Homo sapiens: one gene and its partners. The protein of the gene in region 3 purifies or fractionates together with the protein of the main gene of each other region. This does not show direct contact. Each region holds a gene or a part of one and is shown on either strand. Other genes may lie near its edges.

Region 1 (4,807 bases), on a different chromosome or scaffold from region 3:
TGCATGTCTGTAATCCCAGCTACTCAGGAGGCTGAGGCAGGAGAATCGCTTGAACCCGGGAGGTGGAGGTTGCAGTGAGCCAAGATCGAGCCATTGCACTCCAGCCTGCGCAAAAAGAGTGAAATTCCATCTCAAAAAATAAAATAAAATAATTGAATGAGGTGATACACGCGGAGCACCTGCCTGCAGCAAGCACTCGATACATGCCACTGGACTAGCTCTTCTTGTCTGCACAATTCTCCCAAGCCACGGGTCTGGAGCCTGCCCACCAGGGCCTCCCCCGAGCAGGGCCTACCTTTCGCCATCTCCTTCCATGTCGGGATCTTCTTCAGCCTGACAAAGTCCTTGCAGAAGTAATGTTCCTCCCGCTGCTTGTCACTCAGGCCCTTCAGAAAGGCTGCAGAGGCAGGAAGGAGGATCAGGGTGGGGGCAGAGGAACGGGCCTGGGGCTTGCACCCCCACATCTCCTTTCTTGCCTCATCCAAGAATGCAAACCAGCTCTTCCTGTCCCTCCTTCTCTGGGCACACAGGGCAGGCATGCTGGGGAAACCTCAGAGGCCCCTAGAATATCTTGTCCTGCTCTCTTTGTTCAGGGAGGGAAACTGAGGTCTGGGGAGGCTGAGGGACTGGCTCAGGCATCGCAGACCTGGGTTGTGATGAATTCAGCTCTGCCACTTTCCAGCAGCGTCCACATCTCTCTGGGTCCCCCGTTTCTCCCTGATTAGAACGGGGGTGAAGACGTCCCCTGCAGAACAGCTCCGAGCTTCCTCCCACACACTAAGGCCAAGCCGGTTGGCAGCACTCAGCCAGCGACATTATCCATCAGTCCCACCGCCAGTCAGTTCTGCCCTCACTGTCACTGCATGCAGGCAGCGGGACAGCTGTCCTCCTCCAGGAGCTGCAGGACCAAGTGGACCTGGCACCTGTCCCCAACATCCCCCCCGGCAGCGGCTGAGGGCTCCCAGCATGACCAATGGGGTTGGAATCGTTCTCGTTTTACAGATGAGGAAACCGGGGCTCAGGGAGGTTGGGAGGCCACCCTCACACAGCAGGGACTTGAGTGAGGAGCCAGGCACCCCCCACCCGCTCACAGACTCGGGGTCCACCCTGGCCGGCTCCCCTTGCCTGAGCACTGTCCCATGGGCTCCGCCTTCCCTTGGGGGTGGCACCAGGCACAGAAACCTGGAACCCGTCTCAGAAGGGCCCGCCCCGACCGCGCCAGGCCAGGCTAGCAGCTCACGGGCTCCCCCTGCTGGCCCGAGGCCGCCTGCACACCCAGGCGCTCAGCCCAGCCTGGCACCCTGGACCACAGGCTCCCGGGATGGGGCAGCCCCCACGGCAAACAGCAAAGGCTACAATTGAGAAACTCAAAAAGCATCAAAAAATATGTAGAGGCGGGAGAGCAATTAGAGGAGGTGGTGAGAAAGGAAGGACTGCAGCCTGGAAGCTTCTATGCACATGGCAGTGAGGGGGACAGGTAGGTCCCTCCACAAATGTTCAGGGAGGTTGGGAGGCCACCCTCACACAGCAGGGTGTTTTCCCGGCCAGAGTCACTTCATCATCCAGGCCTCCATCTCCTCATCTAACCACTGCTGGCAGGGGTGATAACAACCCAAGGATGCTGAGAGCATTAGATGACAGAACTCATGCAAGGGGCCCAGTCCAGAGTCCCTGCTGGATGCAAAGGTGGGGTCATCACAAAAGGCTAGGCCCACCCCTGGTCAGCCCCCACTGCTGCTCAAGCCAGAGCCACCTTTCCTGGCAGCCACTTCTGCCCCCTCTTCCATAAACATGTTTGGGCACGAGTAGGTCCTGCATTCAGTACCAGCGCTGCCACCTGCCAAGCCCACCTCCCAGAGGACTCACTGCTGCAGGTCCCCCTCCACCAGGCTGTCCTGCCTGCCCTCAAATAATCCCGTCCCCTCCCTCAACGCCCGCATTCCACGCCCCTGCAGCTGCCCCCTCCTCTGCTGTCTCCACTTCTTCCCTCCCATGCTCCCTTCAGTCCACCCAGTCTGGTCCCTCCTTCCAACAAGGTCAAGGTCACCACACCCCATGCAGCGGCCCCTCCTGCCTTCCCTGTGGACAGGAAGTGTCCTTGCTGCTTTCCTCCCTAGGTCTTCTAATCAGTTGCACAGATTCAAAACGCTCTTTAAGCAAGCAACCTCCGGGGCTGTCCCTCCACTCTCTTCTGAGCCTCTGACCCCCACAGTGCCTGCCTGCTCTCATTCCCCAAAGCCCAGGCATGCAAAACAGAACGTTTGACTCTTTCCCCCAAAACGTCATTTTTTTGTTGCTCCATTCTTCCCTCTTTTTTACTCGAGACCCTGCACCAGGGGTCCCTCCCTTTCCATCCTCTTTTGGATTGATCCCCGTGACACCCTAGAAACCAAGCCTTCCTCTCACCCTCCAGGACTGAGCCTTCCTCATGGCTCCCTAGATCCCACAGACGCTCCCAACTCCCAGCTGATCTCCGTGTGCATCTCATCCCCATCTGTTCCTTGACCGGCAGCCATGGATCCTGGGAACATAAATCAGGTGCCATCCCTCCTCTGTTCAAAACTGCATTCAAACGCCGGTCCTCTGGCCTCTCTCCCACCTCACTCCCAATGCTGCCTCCCCCACTACACCAGTTCCCCAAACAGCCAGGCTGCTTCCTGCCCCAGGCCCTTTGTACCTGCTGTGCTCTGCAGGATATGGGATAGTTTGCTTTTGTTTACACTTATTCTTTTATTTTTTTTTGAGACGGAGTCTCACTCTGTCGCCCAGGCTGGAGTGCAGTGGCACGATCTTGGCTCACTGCAACCTGCACTCCTGGATTCAAGCAATTCTCCTGCCTCAGCCTCCCTAGTAGCTGGGATTACACGCGTGTGCCAGCACACCCAACTAATTTTTGTATTTTAATAGAGATGGGGTTTCACCATGTTGGCCAGGCTGGACTTGAACTCCTGACCTCAAGCAATCCACCCATGTCAGCCTCCCGAAGTGCTGGAATTACAGGCGTGAGCCACGGCGCCGGCCCCCTTTCTTGATCTTGGCCATCTTGACCTGTAGGTTCCATAGGGGATCTGCTGTGTTTGCCATCAGATTCCCACCACCTGGCACGGTGTGTGGGCACCTGAGGGTGCCTGAGGGGCACGCTGAGGAATAAATGAGCCAAGACCAAAGGTTGAGGGCGAGTTTGCTAAGTACAGAGTCTTCTAGGCAGAGGGAACAGTATGTGCAAAAGCCCAGAGGTAAGAGGGAGCCAGAGATGATCCCCTAATTAAAAAAGAAAAAAAAGAGAGAGAGCATTTGGGTGGAGAAAGTGAGGCCAGTCGGTCTCTCCAGGTCTGCCTCCCTGTCTGAGGACGGACAGATGCTGGTGGCAGCCGGCCTAGACCCAGGCTGCGCCTTTTCTTCTGTTATAGGTCCCGCCAGGTTTGGGTTCGTGACCTCCCAACACCATGCTCAGTTTGAAGCCTTGGGTTTTCCCATCTCTGGAATAGGGACAAGGCAGGCCTTCCCTTGCTAACACCCAGGCTTGCTGGGAGGGTCAAAGGAGAAGGTGGCTGTGTGCTGCAAAGTGCGGTCTACACGCCAGACACACTCACTCCTTCCTGGCGGCTAAATAATGCCCAAAGAGAACAAAGCAAACAGGACAAAATTGTGGAGAACTTTTTTTTCCAACTTGGGGACACAGCAGCCGGAGGAACTTTTCTAATTATTTGGGTCCCCAGCACTTGGGGAGACCAAGGCAAGCCAATCACCTGAGCCCAGGAGTTCGAGACCAGCCTGGACAATATGGAGCAACCCCATCTCTACCAAAAAATACAAAAAATCAGCTGAGCGGCCGGGCATGGTGGCTCACACCTGTAATCCCAGCATTTTGGGAGGCCGAGACAGGTGGATCACCTGACATCAGGAGTTTGAGATCAGCCTGGCCAACATGGTGAAACCCCATCTCTACTAAAAATACAAAATTAGCCGGGTGTGGTGGTACATGCCTGTAATCCCAGCTACTCGGGAGGCTGAGGCAGGAGAATCGCTTGAACCTGGGAGGCGGAGGTTGCGGTGAGCTGAGATCACACCATTGCACTCCAGCCTGGGCAACAAGAGCAAAACTCCATCTCAAAAAAAAAAAAAAAAAAAAAATCAGCTGAGCGTGGTGGACATGTGCCTGTAGTCCCAACTGCCTGTGAGGCTGAGGCAGGAGGATCGCTTCAGCCTGGGAGGTCAAGGCTTCAGTGAGCTGTGATTGTGCCACTGCACTCCAGACTGCCCAACAGAGCGAGACCTTGTCTCTAAATAAATAATTTGAATCCCCATATTTGTCACCTTGCACAACTGTGACCTCCCCACTGCGAGGCCTTGGCATGCCACTGTGTGGGCACTCCCAGACGGCTGGACCTGTGGCCAGAAAGTCAGGTACCCACCGTGATGCTGGCGGGACTGGTGGGCTGGGACCCGGACGGACCCCAGAGGCCTTGCTGAAGTGTCTCTGGCTGGGCAGGCCCTGGGAATCCCATGGAACTAGACCAGCGTGACCAGAGACACCTCAGGTGCCCTAGCAGATATCATCTGGCAGATGCCACCACCTTGTTCTAGAGAGGAGGCAGAGTGACCTGCCCCCAGTCACACATAAGCGAGAGGAACCTGAACTTGCTCCCACACTGCCCTCCCTAAGCATGGTAGCCTGGTCTGAGTGATCCACAGCCCACAAAGCCCCTTCTCTCCAGCAAAGCCCACAGGATTGCTCCACTTCCCAGAGACAGCATGCTGGCTCTGCCACCAGCTGGCTGGGCGCCGACCTTGAGGACATCTGTCA
Region 2 (4,807 bases), on a different chromosome or scaffold from region 3:
GATCGCTTGAGCTCAGGAGTTTGAGACCAGCCTGGGCAACATGGCAAAACCCCATCTCTACCAAAAAAATTAGCTGGGCTCAGTGTTGTACCTGTGGTCCCAACTACTCGGGAGGCTGAGGTGGGAGGATCACTCAAGCCTGGGAGGTGGAGGTTGCAGTGAGCTGAGATTATACCATTGCACACCACTGCACTCCAGCCTGGGTGACAAAGTGAGACCCCATCTCATAAAACAAAAAACAGACCAGGTGCGGTGGCTCACGCCTGTAATCCCAGCACTCTGGGAGGCCGAGATGGGTGGATCACTTAAGGTCAGGAGTTCGACATCAGCCTGGCCAACATGGTGAAACCCCATCTCTACTAAAAATACAAAAATTAGTTGGGCATGGTGGTGTGTGCCTGTAATCCCAGCTACTCCGGAGGTTGAGGCAGGAGAATTGCTTGAACCTGGGAGGCAGAAGTTGCAGTGAGCCAAGATCGTGCCACTGCACTCCAGCCTGGGTGATGCAGAGAGACTTTGTCTCAAGAAAAGAAAAGAAACTGGTTTGGAAGGATAACCCAGACTGCGGCCCGGTGTGGGTTTCACTCTGAGCACTTTTGGGAGTGTTGAGTCCACGTGCTGTTCTTGGGTAAGGAGTTTACACAATGCTGCAACCTCCCCAGGTAGGCTCCCCCTTGCAGCCAGGGGACATCTCTTCCTAAGATTCTCCAGGCTTCCTTGCTATTTCAGGAGCTTCACCAGAATACCTCCTGGGGTGTTGACATTGGGCCCTACTGGAACCTTCCTGAATGATCAGGCGAGCTGGGCATTATTACATCTGCTTCAGGGATGAGGAAACCAAGGCCCAGAGAGTTATGTAGTCCAAGATCCTGGAGCTGGTCAGTGGAGGAGCCAGGAGGGGAACCAGCTTGTCTGAGCCCGGGTCTGTCCACACCCTTCTCCATCTCCATCCCAGCCACCGCTCCTGCACTTGCCTCACCTCCCTCAAGTGTGAGCACCAGGGCCGGGCCGCTTCTCATCCCAGCCGCCCCTTCCCGCTGCTCACCCACCTCATGGCTGTGGATGCGGCCCTCCAAGTCCTCCAAGGGTGTGGGGCGGCTCAGCGGGGCCCGCGCCCAGGCCAGCACCTGCCTCTCTATCTGTCCCAGGTCTCCATCCAGCCGGGTCATCTGTGTCAGGAGCTTCTGGGCCTGTGGGTTGGCCAGGTCTGAGCCAGATGGAGCTGGGGGCAGAGGTGCTGGTGAGGGCCCAGGGCCTATCTCCAGACTGCCAGATAGGTGCCCCCACCAGGTGCCCACAGAGGGTCCTGTCGGGGTAGGGTGGAGGGGATGGGCAGGGCCACCCCAGAGATGAAATCCCCAGAGTGATGGTCCCTAACCCAAGGCGACCCCTGCCCATCACAGACCAGTCGGAAGTCGGAATCTACTCCTTCTAGCCCCACAGCCACCTCTCCCCGGGCCACCCTGGGTACCCTGCTGGCTGGGCCGAAGAGACTCCACAGCACTGGCCTTCAGGCGGCTCTGGACTGTGGCCAATTTCTGCTTCAGGGCCTGCAGCTCTGAGGCCAGCCTAGAATGAAGAGGAGATTGAAGAAAGAGGTCCCCACTCTGCCTCTCTCCCTCCCCAGCCCCAGTAGACGCAGCTTCAGGTGAAGGCCAGCCTTTGAGCAGGGGTCTGTTGGGCCATGGGCTTGGACACCGCAGGGCCGGCCTGCTCTGCCCACAGCCTGCCCCTGAGTATCCCTACACAGACCTACCGGGAGGCCCTGGCCACAGCATCAGGGTCTGGTGCTGGGATGCAGAAGCAGGCGGCGGGAGCACGCTTGGTCTCCCCGCCAGGGCCCTGCACGACCCAGGCGTGCGGGTCAGTGTTATCTACCAGCTTATACCGCTCACCCTGCAGCAGCTGCACCTGGGGGCACAGAAAGGGAGCAGCTCCTGAGGGCTCAGGGGCAGGGGGCCAAGGCCAGGGCAGAGTAGGGGCTGGGGACAGAGACAAATGGGGACAGCAGCTGGAACAGGGACAAGAGTAGGGTGGGAGGTGCTGGGGTAGAAAAGAGGCAGGACAGGACTTGGAGAGAGGAGGGTCTGAGTCAAGGGAAGGAGTAGGGCAAAAGTGGGCGCAGGAGACAGCTGGGGATGGAGCAGGGATGGGCTTGGGCAGGGGCAGGGGATGGGTTGGGCGGGGCTGGATGGTGGCAGGGGTGAGGTGGGGGAGTTCGCACTTCTCCTGAGTCCCAGTCGCAGATGCTGTCCACGTGCAGGGGCTGCTGAGGGGGGTTTCTTCGCTGTGGCAGAGGGGCCACATCCCGGCTTCGCCGCTGCAGGTCCCCAGTGGCCCTCTCGGTGACGGCCAGCCGTTTTTCCTCTGCCTGCCGGGGGCCCAGGCAGTGGGGGACTCAGGCCAGGCTGCATTGGAGGCTGGCCACACCATACCTGTCCTTCAAAAGGCCTAGAGGCTGGCCTTCATGAAGGCAGGGGTCTCTAAGTCAGCAAAGTAAAAGGAGCCCCTCTCTGGGGGACCTAGGATCCTGGGATCTGCTAGTTGCAGGGAGGGGGATGGCACAGCATCACCCAGGCCACCAAGCAGAAGCTAGACAGGCCTCAGAGCTCTCCCAGGCTGCCCTTGTCCCACTGCAAATGAGGAAACTGACGTCCAGAAGTGGGAGGAGCTTGCTGGTACCTGGCCAGCCTCCTGCTAGAGTAAACCCCCCTGCCAGCACCCAGGCCAGGGCTTGGGATAGGACTAGGTACCAAGGCAGAAGGGGTGAGGCCCAGAAAAATGGACAGGACCAATTCCCAGAAGTGGGGTGCAGACGGCCTGGTGGGGTTGTCTCACCTCCAGCTGTTGCAGCAGCTCTGTGGGGGCGCCAGGGGGGCCCCCAGGTGCAGGGCTGTACTTGGCATCCAAGTTGGAGTTGAGCTTCGCCAGGGTCTGGCTGACTGAGTCGGCCTCTTCCTGGAACTGAGTTCACTGGGTGGTCAAGGGCAGAGCCTCGTGCAACCTGCTGCCCACTGACCCTACAAACCAGCTGAACCTAAGCCAGCTAAACACAAAGCAGCTAAACCTAAACCAGCTAAACACAAACCAGCTAAACACAAACCAGATAAATGTGAAACAGCTAAACTAAACCAGTAACCGCTAAGCCAGCTAAACCTAAACCAACTAAACACAAATCAGCTAAACCTAAACCAGAAAAACCTAAGCCAGGTAAACCTAAACCAGCTAAACTTAAACCAGCTAAATCTAAACCAGCTAAACACAAACCACCTAAACCGAAACCAGCTAAACCTAAACCAGCCAAACACAAACCAGATAAACCTAAACCAGCTAAACCTAAACCAGCTAAACACAAACCAGATAAACTTAAACCAGATAAACCTAAACCAGCTAAACCTAAACCAGCTAAACACAAACCAGATAAACTTAAACCAGATAAACCTAAACCAGCTAAACACAAACCAGATAAACTTAAACCAGATAAACCTAAACCAGCTAAACTTAAACCAGCTAAACCTAAACTGTCACTCTCCCCTACTCTGGTCGGTCTTTCTTTTTCCTACCCAGGCGGCAGGACCTTTTATCACTGGTGTGCTCTTGCAAATGGGGTCTTATTTGTGCACTGAACTTAATTTTTTTAAGTGGGTCATAAAACACTTGGTCTTCGTCCTTCCTGCACAAATGAAGGGCACCGTCACCTGCCTCCCTCCAGCACCTGAAGTCTTTCTTGCTGGGACAGAGGGTATTGGAGCTGCACTTGTCCCAGCCCCGGAGAAGAAGCTGTGCTTTAAAGAAGCATTCCAGGTGCTTTGACGGAATTTTTGTCAACGTGTGTGATCACAGTCTTGTGGTTCTATAGGAAAATGTATGAAACATTATCTGCCCCCAAATCCCAGTTGCATATTATATCAGGGTTTCTCAACCGTTTTTTTTTTCATTATTATTCTCCTAAAGAGCCTTTTAAGAAATATTTTATTTAATTTCCCCCCACCTCATCCCCATAAAATTTTATTTATTTATTTATTTTGATAGAGATGTATCTATTTGTATAGAGACAGGGTCTTGCTATGTTGCCCAGGCTGGTCTGGAACTACTGGTGTCAAGCAATTCTCCTGGCTCGGCTTCCCAAAGTGCTGGAATTACAGATGTGAGCCACCACACCTGGCCCCCACGAAATTTTAATACCACAGATATGCTGTATACAGCTTAGGTGCTGTATGTGGATCTGGACTTCATGCATAAAAAGAGTTAAGATATTTTTCTGCCAGTAAGAACCAATTTTCACCCCCCTGGGAACCGCTTCACCCTGTTGAGAATGTGCCCATGCCTTTCTTTCCCTCTGGGACCGAGTGGCAACCACACAGCTCTATTTTATTTTATTTTTGAGGTGGAGTCTCTCTCTGTCACCCAGGCTGGAGTGCAGTGGACCAATCTCGGCCCACTGCAACCTCCGCCTCCTGGGTTCAAGCGATTCTCCTGCCTCAGCCTCCTGAGTAGCTCGGATTACAGGCGCGTGCCACCACATCTGGCTAATTTTGGTATTTTTAGTAGAGACAGGGTTTCACCATGTTGGCCAGGCTGATCTCGAACTCCTGACCTCAAGTGATCCACCAGCCTCGGCCTCCCAAAGTGCTGGGATTACAGGTGTGAGCCACCGCGCCCTGCCAGCTCTGTCTAGTTGGGAGGTGCAGTGCCTCTCCTGTGGGCAGGGGTGCTGTGCTCCCGCCCCTGCCGCCCCTGCCGCCCCTGCCGCCCCTGCCGCCTGCCCGAGGGCTCACCCGGCGGTAGTCCTCCACGTGCTGCAGCT
Region 3 (4,807 bases):
TCTTGGCTCGCTGCAACCTCTGCCTCCCAGGTTCAAGTGATTCTCTGCCTCAGCATCTTGAGTAGCTGGGATTACGGGTGCCCACGACCATGTCTGGCTAATTTTTGTATTTCTAGTAGAGACGAGGTTTCACCATGATGGCCAGGCTGGTCTTGAACTCCTGACCTCAAGTGATCTGCCCACCTCGGCCTCCCAAAGTGCTGGGATTACAGGTGTGAGCCTGTAAGGGTGTTTTTCTCCTATACTGATGTACTGTGTTGCTAGGAGATGGGCCTAAATTAAACTTTAATTCCTAAATTAAACTTTCTTGTAGACTGACTTTAATTGAACCTGGCTCTTTAAGGGCACATAACACATTTACTATGTGTGTCACTGTGCAAAACCTGTCATTTCTGAAGCTGGAAGACAATTAACCAGGTCACCTGGTATCTTATTCTAGGCATGTTACCATCATACATATTAAGAGATAAGTGGCAGCTGTGCTATGGTGGAAAAGCACCATATTAGGAGAAAAATCTAAGATTAATTATTTACTAGCTATACAACCTTGAAAGATTGCTTAACATCTCTCAGCCATGATTTCTCATCTGTAAAATGGATAATATTTTTCATAAATATGTCATAAACTATAACTAGATACTATATATAAAATACCTTTTAAAATATTAAGTGCTATATGGAGATATCACTTTGTACACTGCAAACGTATACAATCAAAAGCACAAAAACTGAGATTGTATAAAAAACTTTTGCAGGCCGGGCATGGTGGTTCATGCCTGTAATCCCAGCACTTTGGGAGGCCAAGGTGGGTGGATCACAAGGTCAAGAGATCGAGACCATCCTGGCTAACACAGTGAAACCCCGTCTCTACTAAAAATGCAAAAATTAGCTGGGCGTGGTGGCGGGTGCCTGTAATCCCAGCTACTCAGGAGGCTGAGGCAGGAGAATCACTTGAACCCAGGAGGCAGAGGTTGCAGTGAGCCGAGATCGCGCCATTGCACTTCAGCTTGGGCAACAAGAGTGAAACTGTGCCTCAAAAAAAAAACAAACAAAAAAAACTTTTGCAAGGATTAATAAGAAAGTATACTACTGGAATTTTGTACCATGACCATAACTTAGTATTATAATTTTATAAAGTCTAGTTTGAAAATACCTTTTATTCGCTACTAAATAAATTTATACTTATTTATTTATTTCTGAGACGGAGTCTCACTCTGTCACCCAGCTGGAGTGTAGTGGCATAATCTTGGCTCACTGCAACCTCCGCCTCCCAGGTTCAAGCGATTCTCCTGACTCAGCTTCCTGAGTAGCTGGGGTTACAGGCACCCGCCACCATGCCCGGCTAATTTTTGTATTTTTAGTACAGATGGGGTTTCGCCATGTTGGCTAGGCTGGTCTTGAACTCCTGGCCTCAAGTGAACCGCCTGCCTCAGCCTCCCAAAGTGCTGCAATTACAGGTGTGAGCCACTGTGCCCAGCCCCTACTAAATCAATTTAAAAACTCCAAGCTGGGAGTGGTGGCTCATGCCTGTAATCCCAGCACTTTGGGAGGCCAAGGCAGGCGGATCACGAGGTCAGGAGTTTGAGACTAGCCTGGCTAACATTGTGAAACCCGTCTCTACTGAAAATACAAAAAATTAGCTGGGCGTGGTGGCGCACACCTGTAATCCCACCTATTTGGGAGACTGAGGTGGGAGAATCGCTTGAACCTGGGAGGCGGAGGTTGCAGTTAGCCGAGATCGTGCCACTGCACTCCAGCCCAGGTGACAGTGCGAGACTCCGACTCCAAAAAAAAACCAACTCCCTCATTAAACCTCTTTGTCCACCCGCAGTATAATCCTGCCTAACTCCCACCTTTGCTCTTCACTGACTCTATGCTCTTACCAAATGAATTATTTGTTATACAGGCTCATGTGTATTTTTGATTCATGGTTGAAGTGGTATAGGAGGAATGTGTGGAATAAAGAGATGCCTGTTAACTTAAAAAATGCTAAATGGATATAGCACTATCCATTATGGATATAGTAATTATAAAGGTTTATGGTAATTGTATTTTATTATAGAAAAGAAACTTTTTTTCCTCCTTTAAAAATTCTCTGAGAAATCTGTTGTTAAATACATCATAGAACAGAGCGAGAAGGGAGCAGTGGAGCTGTTTCTGTGCCTGCTTTCCCTGCTGGCCTGGGGGCTTTAGGGACAGGGAACACTACCATTAACTGTGCTGAGTAGGGCTGGCTGTCAGCAGACATCAGAAATTTGGTTTAACAGATTTTTTTAAATTGGGTGGTCAGTGCTTTTATAATGATAAAAAACTAAACTGAAAATTCCCAAATTGTGTGAAACTGTTTCGGTTAATACTGATGGAAATAAATCTAAACTATTACCAAGTGACAGGGCTTAGCACCTATGAGCATGTTTGCCACTCATGAAAGTAAGAGCTGTCTATCTGAACATGCCTTTCCTTCTGGTTATCAGTCACCCACAGTTCAGGGCTTCTCTCTTCCGTGGTACCCTAAATAAAGCGGTGCTACTGACTGGCATTGGCAAAAGGGGGGCTGTGCACTCTAAAACTCCAACTCCTCTTGGTTATTTTCCTTCCAGTAGCTTTGCCCATTGACTCCGAGGCTCTCGGGGGGAGTGTGAAGGCGGTGACAGGACTTACCGTGAGCCTTTCACGTGCTTATGAATGAAGTCGGCATGAAACCGTGGGACCAGAGGATCCTTCTCACCGTGCACAATCAAGGCGGGGCACTGGACCCGGGGCAGCAGGTGCCGGCAGATGTTACCTGACGGATACACAGCACGAGGAATCTGCTTTAGTGCAACCATTCTACGCGGTCAGAGGAGGCGAAACTCGGCGAGCCCTGCCCCTCCTTGGCCCTCAGTTTCCCTATCCGTAAAAACTGTGTTTTGGATTTGACCGTGCCTGGGATTCCTTCCAGCTCTAACATTCTTTGGGTTCCCTTTTCTGTTTCTCTCTGTTTCTTGTTTGTTTGCCTGTTTCTGAGTTCTACTAGTAAATAAGCAGCCTGATTTAAATTCGCATAAAATAGTAGGAAAATCAAATAAACACCCCACCACTATATTCCACAGTGGCGGTTCCCACCGTGAAAACAGTGGTAGGTGCTTGACACCTGTAGAGCTTTTCCCTGGAAATCACGTTTCAGATGAGTGTAGGGGCCCCGGCCAGCCCTCAAAGCATATGAACCTCACAAGGAATTAATTATACAACTTGCGCACGGTAAAGCAGCTTCTCCTTATCGCTGATGCATCTGTGACACTCCTGACTAACATACTTTGGAGAGACTGTAAGGACTTACCCCCATTTATGAGAACTTTCCTGAGGCAATGATGGACAGCCTGGGCCCTAGTCCCTGTACTGCAGTTTCCTGCCTCTGTGAGGCTGTGGTGGCTCCTTAACCACTGGGAGCTTCAGCCACAAACAGGAACAATCACAGTTCCCCGGGGCTGTTGTGGGGCTAAAAAGAGAGTTGCGTCTGCGGTTCCTGGCATCCCTAAGCTAGCTCTTTCCTTCTCCATTCCCTCTCCGTGTGTGTCAAGAGGAAGGCACTGCAGCTCTGAGAAGGCTGGGAGCTGCCCCGACGGGGCAGTGCTCCCCCGCCCTGCACGGGCCCCAGGCCTTTCCCTCCTCTTCAGTGGGAAGTCACTGCCTGCTAAGTGAGAAGCGGACCTGCTGACTAGGGAAATACTTCTCCAGGTCTCTGACACTTCCCTCTCCTGTCCCGAGATGACACACACCGGCCAGCTGCATCATCACGTGATGATCAAAGTCAACATGCCTGAGTGCTCACTTGGTGCCAGCAACTGTTTAAACAATTTCACATCTGTTAAACACAGTAGTTACATGTTTTAACTCATTCAGCATATAAAAATGTTTGTTCATTAAGGACTTCTGTAATAACAGTAATACCAACCTTTCACTAGACACTTACTCTGTCTTTGATCCTGCACCAAAGCTGAATAGATAATACCTCATTTAATCCCCACAACAACAGCTTTTCGAGGTCACAGATAGGAAACCGAAGCTTCAAGAAGCTAAGTTACCTGCCCAGATCCATTCTAACAGCAAGCCGGGGACACAGGCAGAACTCACACTCAGGGCCATCGCACTCCAGAGCCGTGCAATGCAATGAATCCCTACACTATACCAAGCATCCATAAACCTGAGAGGACAGTCGGAAAAGAGGGCTCCTACCAAATGAGTCAGCACAGAAGGGGGACGCATCACGAAGGCCCTCGCTGTGAGACAGTTTATACACTGCTACAGCCTCTGTATCATGAACGTATTTTTGAATTGCTGATTTAACCCTATTTCCACCTTTAAATCTTCCTGTCTTTTCACTACTCTCTTCAACAAAACATCCAAGTTTACATTTTACAAATGTGCCCTCTTTAATGGAGAACTGTCTCAAACATCGTTTCATGGCATTTTTTTGTTTTAAGAGCAGAGATTTCCAGGGCCTGTCTCCATGGGTGGATGCTGCATCTGAACAGAAACATTATAAGGCATACATTTGATATATTTGCTGTTTTCAACTCAAACCAGAAGAGTAACATTTCCAAATGTCCTTTTCATTGTGAAAGTTTTGGCAGATGATTCATGCAGGAAATGATTACCTAATGGATCAAATTGGTCCTTCAATCACAACCATTTTGTAACAATGCACTCCAAGATTAGATCTTAGCTACTCTATTTTCTCAGTAATTAAAAAAAAATGAGATTATAAACATAAACAGCTGTATGAAAATAAACTATAATTCAGAATTTCTCTTAAAGATGTCAATTC
Region 4 (4,807 bases), on a different chromosome or scaffold from region 3:
CAGACTTAGAGAAACGTGGCTGCTGGTGTGAGGTCTTGTAATAACATTGGTGCTTTCCAGGGCTCCTTCCTGATTCCTGTGCTGTAGAGGATTCCTTTCTGCCCAGAGAAAGGCCTGGCCCTTGCCCCTAGGTCCTGAGAGGTATTTCCTAATCCCTTGGATTTTTTTGTTTTGTTTTGTTTTGTTTTAGACGAAGTCTCGCTGTGTCTCCCAGGCTGGAGTGCAGTGGCACGATCTCAGCTCACTGCAACCTCTGCCTCCCAGGTTCAAGCAATTCTCCTGCCTCAGCCTCCCGAGTAGCTGGGACTACAGGTGGGTGCCACCATGCCTGGCTAATTTTTGTATTTTTAGTAGAGACGGGTTTTCACCATGTTGGCCAGGCTGGTCTCAAACTCCCGGCCTCAAGTGATCCATCTGCTTCGGCCTCCCCAAGTGCTGGGATTACAGGCATGAGCCACCATGCCCAGCCTAGTCTTATTTTTTAGAAACAAGGTCTTGTCGGCCAGGCACTGTGGCTCACACCTGTAATCCCAACACTTTGGGAGGCTAAGGCGGGTGGATCACCTGAGGTCAGGTGTTCGAGACCAGCCTGGTCAACATGGTGAAACCCCGTCTCTACTGAAAATACAAAAAATTAGCTGGGCATGGTGGTGGGCGCCTGTAATCCCAGCTATTTGGGAGGCTGAGGCAAGAGAATCGCTTGAACCCTGGAGGCAGAGGGGCAGAGGTTGCAGTGAGCCAAGATCGTGCCATTGCACTCCAGCCTGGGCAACAAGAGGGAAACTCTGTCTCAAAAAAAGAAAAAAGAAAGAAAAAGAAAAAAGAAAAGAAACAAGGTCTTGTTCTGTCCTTGAGGCTGGAGTGCCTGTGGCACAATCATGGCTCACTGCAGCCTGAAACTCCCAGGCTCAAGTGATCTTCCTACCTCAGCCTCCCAAGTAGCTGGGACTACAGGTGTATGCCACTACACGTGACGAATTTTTAAACTTTTTTGTAGAGATGGGTGTTTCTAAGTTGCCCAGCTGGTCTTGAACTCCTGGGCTCAATCAACTGCTCACCTTGGCCTCTGAAAGTGCTGGGATTTCAGGCGTGAGCCACCGCGCCCGGCCCCCTTGCCTGATTTTCACGTTTGCTTTCATTGTAATTGACTATAACCCGGGAGTCCAGCAGCTTTGCTGAACACTATGAGTTTTGCTAAGTCGTTGAGCCTGAGGGTGGTCTTGGGGACTTCCTGATTGCAGCCCCCCCTCTCTGCTCTGTCCACGCTCAATTCCTTGGCGATATCACCCAGTCCTGGAGCTTCGATTAATTACAGAATATATGTGCCAAGGAATTGCAAATGGACGTGTCAGCCCAAGTCTCTCCCCTCAGATCCCGATGGGTGCATTTCTGTGCCCACCGGCAGCCTCTGCTGGACGTGGGATGGGCCGCCGCAGAGCCCGTGTCTTCCTCCCCCGCCTGCTCCCCTCCCTCCTCCCCTTCCCAGTTGCCCCACCCTGACAGTTGCTTCCGCCGAAACCTTGGAGTCACCCTTGACTCATCCCCTTCTCTCACACCCACATCCAGTCTGTCAGCAAATCCTCCCGGTCTCACCTTCAAAATACCTCCGTGACCATCACCCTAGTCCAGCCACCGTCCCCTCCCCTGGACCCCGGCCAGCGCCGCCTCTCGGGCTTCCCGGCTTCTGCTCTCTCGACAGTCGGTCCCCATCTGACCGCCAGAGGGCGCCGGTGAAGCCTAAGCCCGCTCGGGCTCCTCCTCTGCTGCGATCCCTGCCGCGCTGCCTCGTCACTCGGTCAGAGCTCAAGTCCGCACCGGGCCCACGCGGCCCTGCACATTTTGGCCCCTGTTGCCTCCCCACCCGGACCTCATCTCCACTCCTTTCCCCACTTGCTCACTTGGCTCCGGCCACACCGACCTCCCTCTTGCACCTCAGATACACCCACCTCAGGGCCTTTGCACCTGCTTTTCCCTCTTGCCTGAAATGCTCTTCCTCTAGAAACCTCTGTGGCTCCCACCATCACCTCCCGGGTTTTTACTCACTGGGGGCCCCCTTGACCTCCTTATTTATAATTGCAGCCCCACACCCACCTCTAACTCTATCTCCAGCCCTCTCCCCCCAATGTAAATTTATCCCATCAGACATTTTATGTATTATATTATATTGCATTATGTTATTATATGTTAAACATATAAATATTAAATATAATTAAAGTATATTGTAATACTATTAAATTATTATAATATGTAGTATAATATATGGGGGTTTTTTTTTTGAGACGGAGTTTTGCTTTTGTTGCCCAGGCTGGAGTGCAATGGCGCGATCTCGGCTCACCACAACCTCCGCCTCCTGGGTTCAAGCGATTCTCCTGCCTCAGCCTCCCAAGTAGCTGGGATTACAGGCATGTGCCACCACGCCCAGCTAACTTTGTATTTTTAGTAGAGACAGGTTTTCTCCATGTTGGTCAGGATGGTCTCAAACTCCTGACCTCAGGTGATCTGCCCACCTTGGCTTCCCAAAGTGCTGGGAGTACAAACGTGAGCCACTGCGCCTGGCTGTAATTTTTTTTTTTTTTTTTGAGATGAAATCTTGGTCTGTCTCCCAGGCTGGAGTGCAGTGGTGCCATCTCAGCTCACTGCAACCTCCACCTCCCAGGTTCCAGCAATTCTCCTGCCTTAGCCTCCTGAGTAGCTGGGATTACAGGCACCCACCACCAGATCCGACTAATTTTTGTATTTTTAGTAGAGACATGGTTTCACCATGTTGGCCAAGCTGGTATTGAACTCCTGGCCTCAAGTGATCTGCCTGCCTCTGCCTCCCAAAGTGCTGGGATTACAGGCGTGAGCCACCATGCCAGCACCGGCTTTTTTTTTTTTTTTTTTTTTTTTTTTTTTTTTGAGACAGTCTTGCCCTGTTGCCTAGGATGGAGTGCAGTAAGGTGATTTCAGCTCAGTGCAGCCTTGACCTGCTGGGCTCAAGTGATCCTCCCACCTCAGCATTCCAAGTAGCTGGGACTACAAGTGTGTGCCACCACGTCTGACTGATTTTTAAAATTTCTTGTAATGATGTGGTCTGACTATGTTGCCCAAGCTGGTCTCAAACTCCTGGCCCAAAGTGATCCTCCCGCCTCAGCCTCCCAAAGTGCTGGGACTACAGGCATGAGCCATCACTCCCTGCCAAAGGGCAGGCATTTCTGTGTGTATATTGACCACTGTGCTAGATCAGAGTCAGGCACATAGTAGGTGTTTAACAAATAGGTGCTGAATGAATCAATGAGTTATGCTCCGTCCCCCCATTACCCCATACACCCATGCAGCCCCTCCCAACTGACACACACCCCTCCTCCCAACCTTGGCCTTGGAGCTGAAGAAGGCCTTGGTGAAGATCTGGATGGGAAGATGGGAGCTCATGAGGCGGGGGCTGTACTGGTCCGGGAGGCTGAAGGCACCCACAATGGTCTCACACCAGGGTGCCCGCTCCCAGATGGGCACGGAGCGGATCCAGGATGGATCCCCTTCCTTCAGGATTAAGCAGATGATCTCGATCATCCAGGTCGTGCCTGTTGGGAGAAATCGAGCAGATTAATTGGGTGTGGGAGGGCTGAAGAGGGAGATATCATCAGAATAATCACAACAGCACTTATTGAGCAATTTGCCACCTTTTATTATTTTTTTTTAAGACAGAGTCTTACTCTGTTGCCCACGCTGGAGTGCAATGGCGCGATCTCGGCTCACTGCAACCTCCACCTCCCAGGCTCAAGCAATTCTCCTGCCTCAGCCTCAGCCGAGTAGCTAGCATTACAAGCGCCCACCACCACGCCTGGCTAATTTTGTATTTTTAGTAGAGACGAGGTCTCCCCATGTTGGCCAGGCTGGTCTCGAACTCCTGACCTCAGGTGCTCTGCCCACCTCGGCCTCCCAAACTGCTGGGATTACAGCTGTGAGCCACCACGCCCTGCCTGACAGCATTTATTGAGCAATTTACCACCTATTTTATCACACTGATTCCTTACAGCTGGCAGAGAAGGCAAGGTTGCTTAACCTCATTTTCGGAGCCAGAAACTGAGCCTTACAGAAACCATGTCGCTCGTCCAAGGGGACAAAGCTAGGAAAGTGGTGCAGGGCAGAGACTGGTGAGCTGTCCACCCAACCCCATTTCATTTTTCTGCTGGGAATATGGCGTGATGACCTTTTCTCTTCTCCCCTGCTGCTATGTGTGGGGCCAAGAGACTGGGTCTGGCCAAGGAAGTATAGGTGGCGGCGATGTGATGTGCGGCTATTTCCAGGCCTGGCCCATAAACGCACGCCACGTGACTCTCCACTCCCTCTCTGCTTCTGGATACAGAGACTCCAGGGGAGAATCTGGGACTCCCGGGGATGGCAGAGCCATAAGATGGAAGGAACCAAATGTCTGGGAATGCATGGATATCCCCCCACCAACTTCCTTCCACCCTTCCTGCACCAACTACAGTTTATAGGAAAAAGAAACAAACTTGGCTTCAGCCGCTGAAATTCTGAGGCTGATCTATTAGTACAGCCAGAATTGCTTTACTTATTTATTTTTTTGGGGACAGAATCTTGCTCTGTCACCCAGGCTGGAGTGCAGTGGTGTGATCACAGCTCACTGCAGCCTTGAAATCCCGGGCTTAAGAGATCCTCCTGCCTCAGCCTCCCGAGTAGCTGAGACCACAGGTGCACACAACCACACCTGGCTAATTTCTTATTTTTATTTTTAGAAGACATACGGTCCCACTATGTTGCCCAGGCTGGTCTTGAACTCCTGGGCTCAAGCAATCCTCCTGCCTCA

Evidence for each region. The genes of interacting proteins can lie anywhere in the genome.
Region 1: the proteins of BPHL (region 3) and MACROD1 fractionate together in Homo sapiens (co-fractionation; one large-scale study listed by BioGRID). This does not show direct contact.
Region 2: the proteins of BPHL (region 3) and EVPL purify together in Homo sapiens (affinity purification with mass spectrometry; one large-scale study listed by BioGRID and IntAct). This does not show direct contact.
Region 4: the proteins of BPHL (region 3) and SULT2B1 purify together in Homo sapiens (affinity purification with mass spectrometry; one large-scale study listed by BioGRID and IntAct). This does not show direct contact.

Annotation. Positions count from the first base shown.
Region 1 is NC_000011.10:64,151,997-64,156,803, forward strand, and holds part of MACROD1 (ADP-ribose glycohydrolase MACROD1), read right to left. Parts: intron 398-4,807; coding exon 296-397; intron 1-295. UniProt on the Homo sapiens protein: Removes ADP-ribose from aspartate and glutamate residues in proteins bearing a single ADP-ribose moiety. Inactive towards proteins bearing poly-ADP-ribose.
Region 2 is NC_000017.11:76,016,690-76,021,496, forward strand, and holds part of EVPL (envoplakin), read right to left. Parts: coding exon 4,779-4,807; intron 2,965-4,778; coding exon 2,839-2,964; intron 2,372-2,838; coding exon 2,225-2,371; intron 1,912-2,224; coding exon 1,757-1,911; intron 1,570-1,756; coding exon 1,472-1,569; coding exon of another isoform or gene 1,406-1,471; intron 1,223-1,405; coding exon 1,050-1,222; intron 1-1,049. UniProt on the Homo sapiens protein: Component of the cornified envelope of keratinocytes. May link the cornified envelope to desmosomes and intermediate filaments.
Region 3 is NC_000006.12:3,138,364-3,143,170, reverse strand, and holds part of BPHL (serine hydrolase BPHL isoform 1 precursor), read right to left. Parts: intron 2,786-4,807; coding exon 2,662-2,785; intron 1-2,661. UniProt on the Homo sapiens protein: Specific alpha-amino acid ester serine hydrolase that prefers small, hydrophobic, and aromatic side chains and does not have a stringent requirement for the leaving group other than preferring a primary alcohol.
Region 4 is NC_000019.10:48,585,982-48,590,788, reverse strand, and holds part of SULT2B1 (sulfotransferase 2B1), read right to left. Parts: intron 3,561-4,807; coding exon 3,352-3,560; intron 1-3,351. UniProt on the Homo sapiens protein: Sulfotransferase that utilizes 3'-phospho-5'-adenylyl sulfate (PAPS) as sulfonate donor to catalyze the sulfate conjugation. Responsible for the sulfation of cholesterol.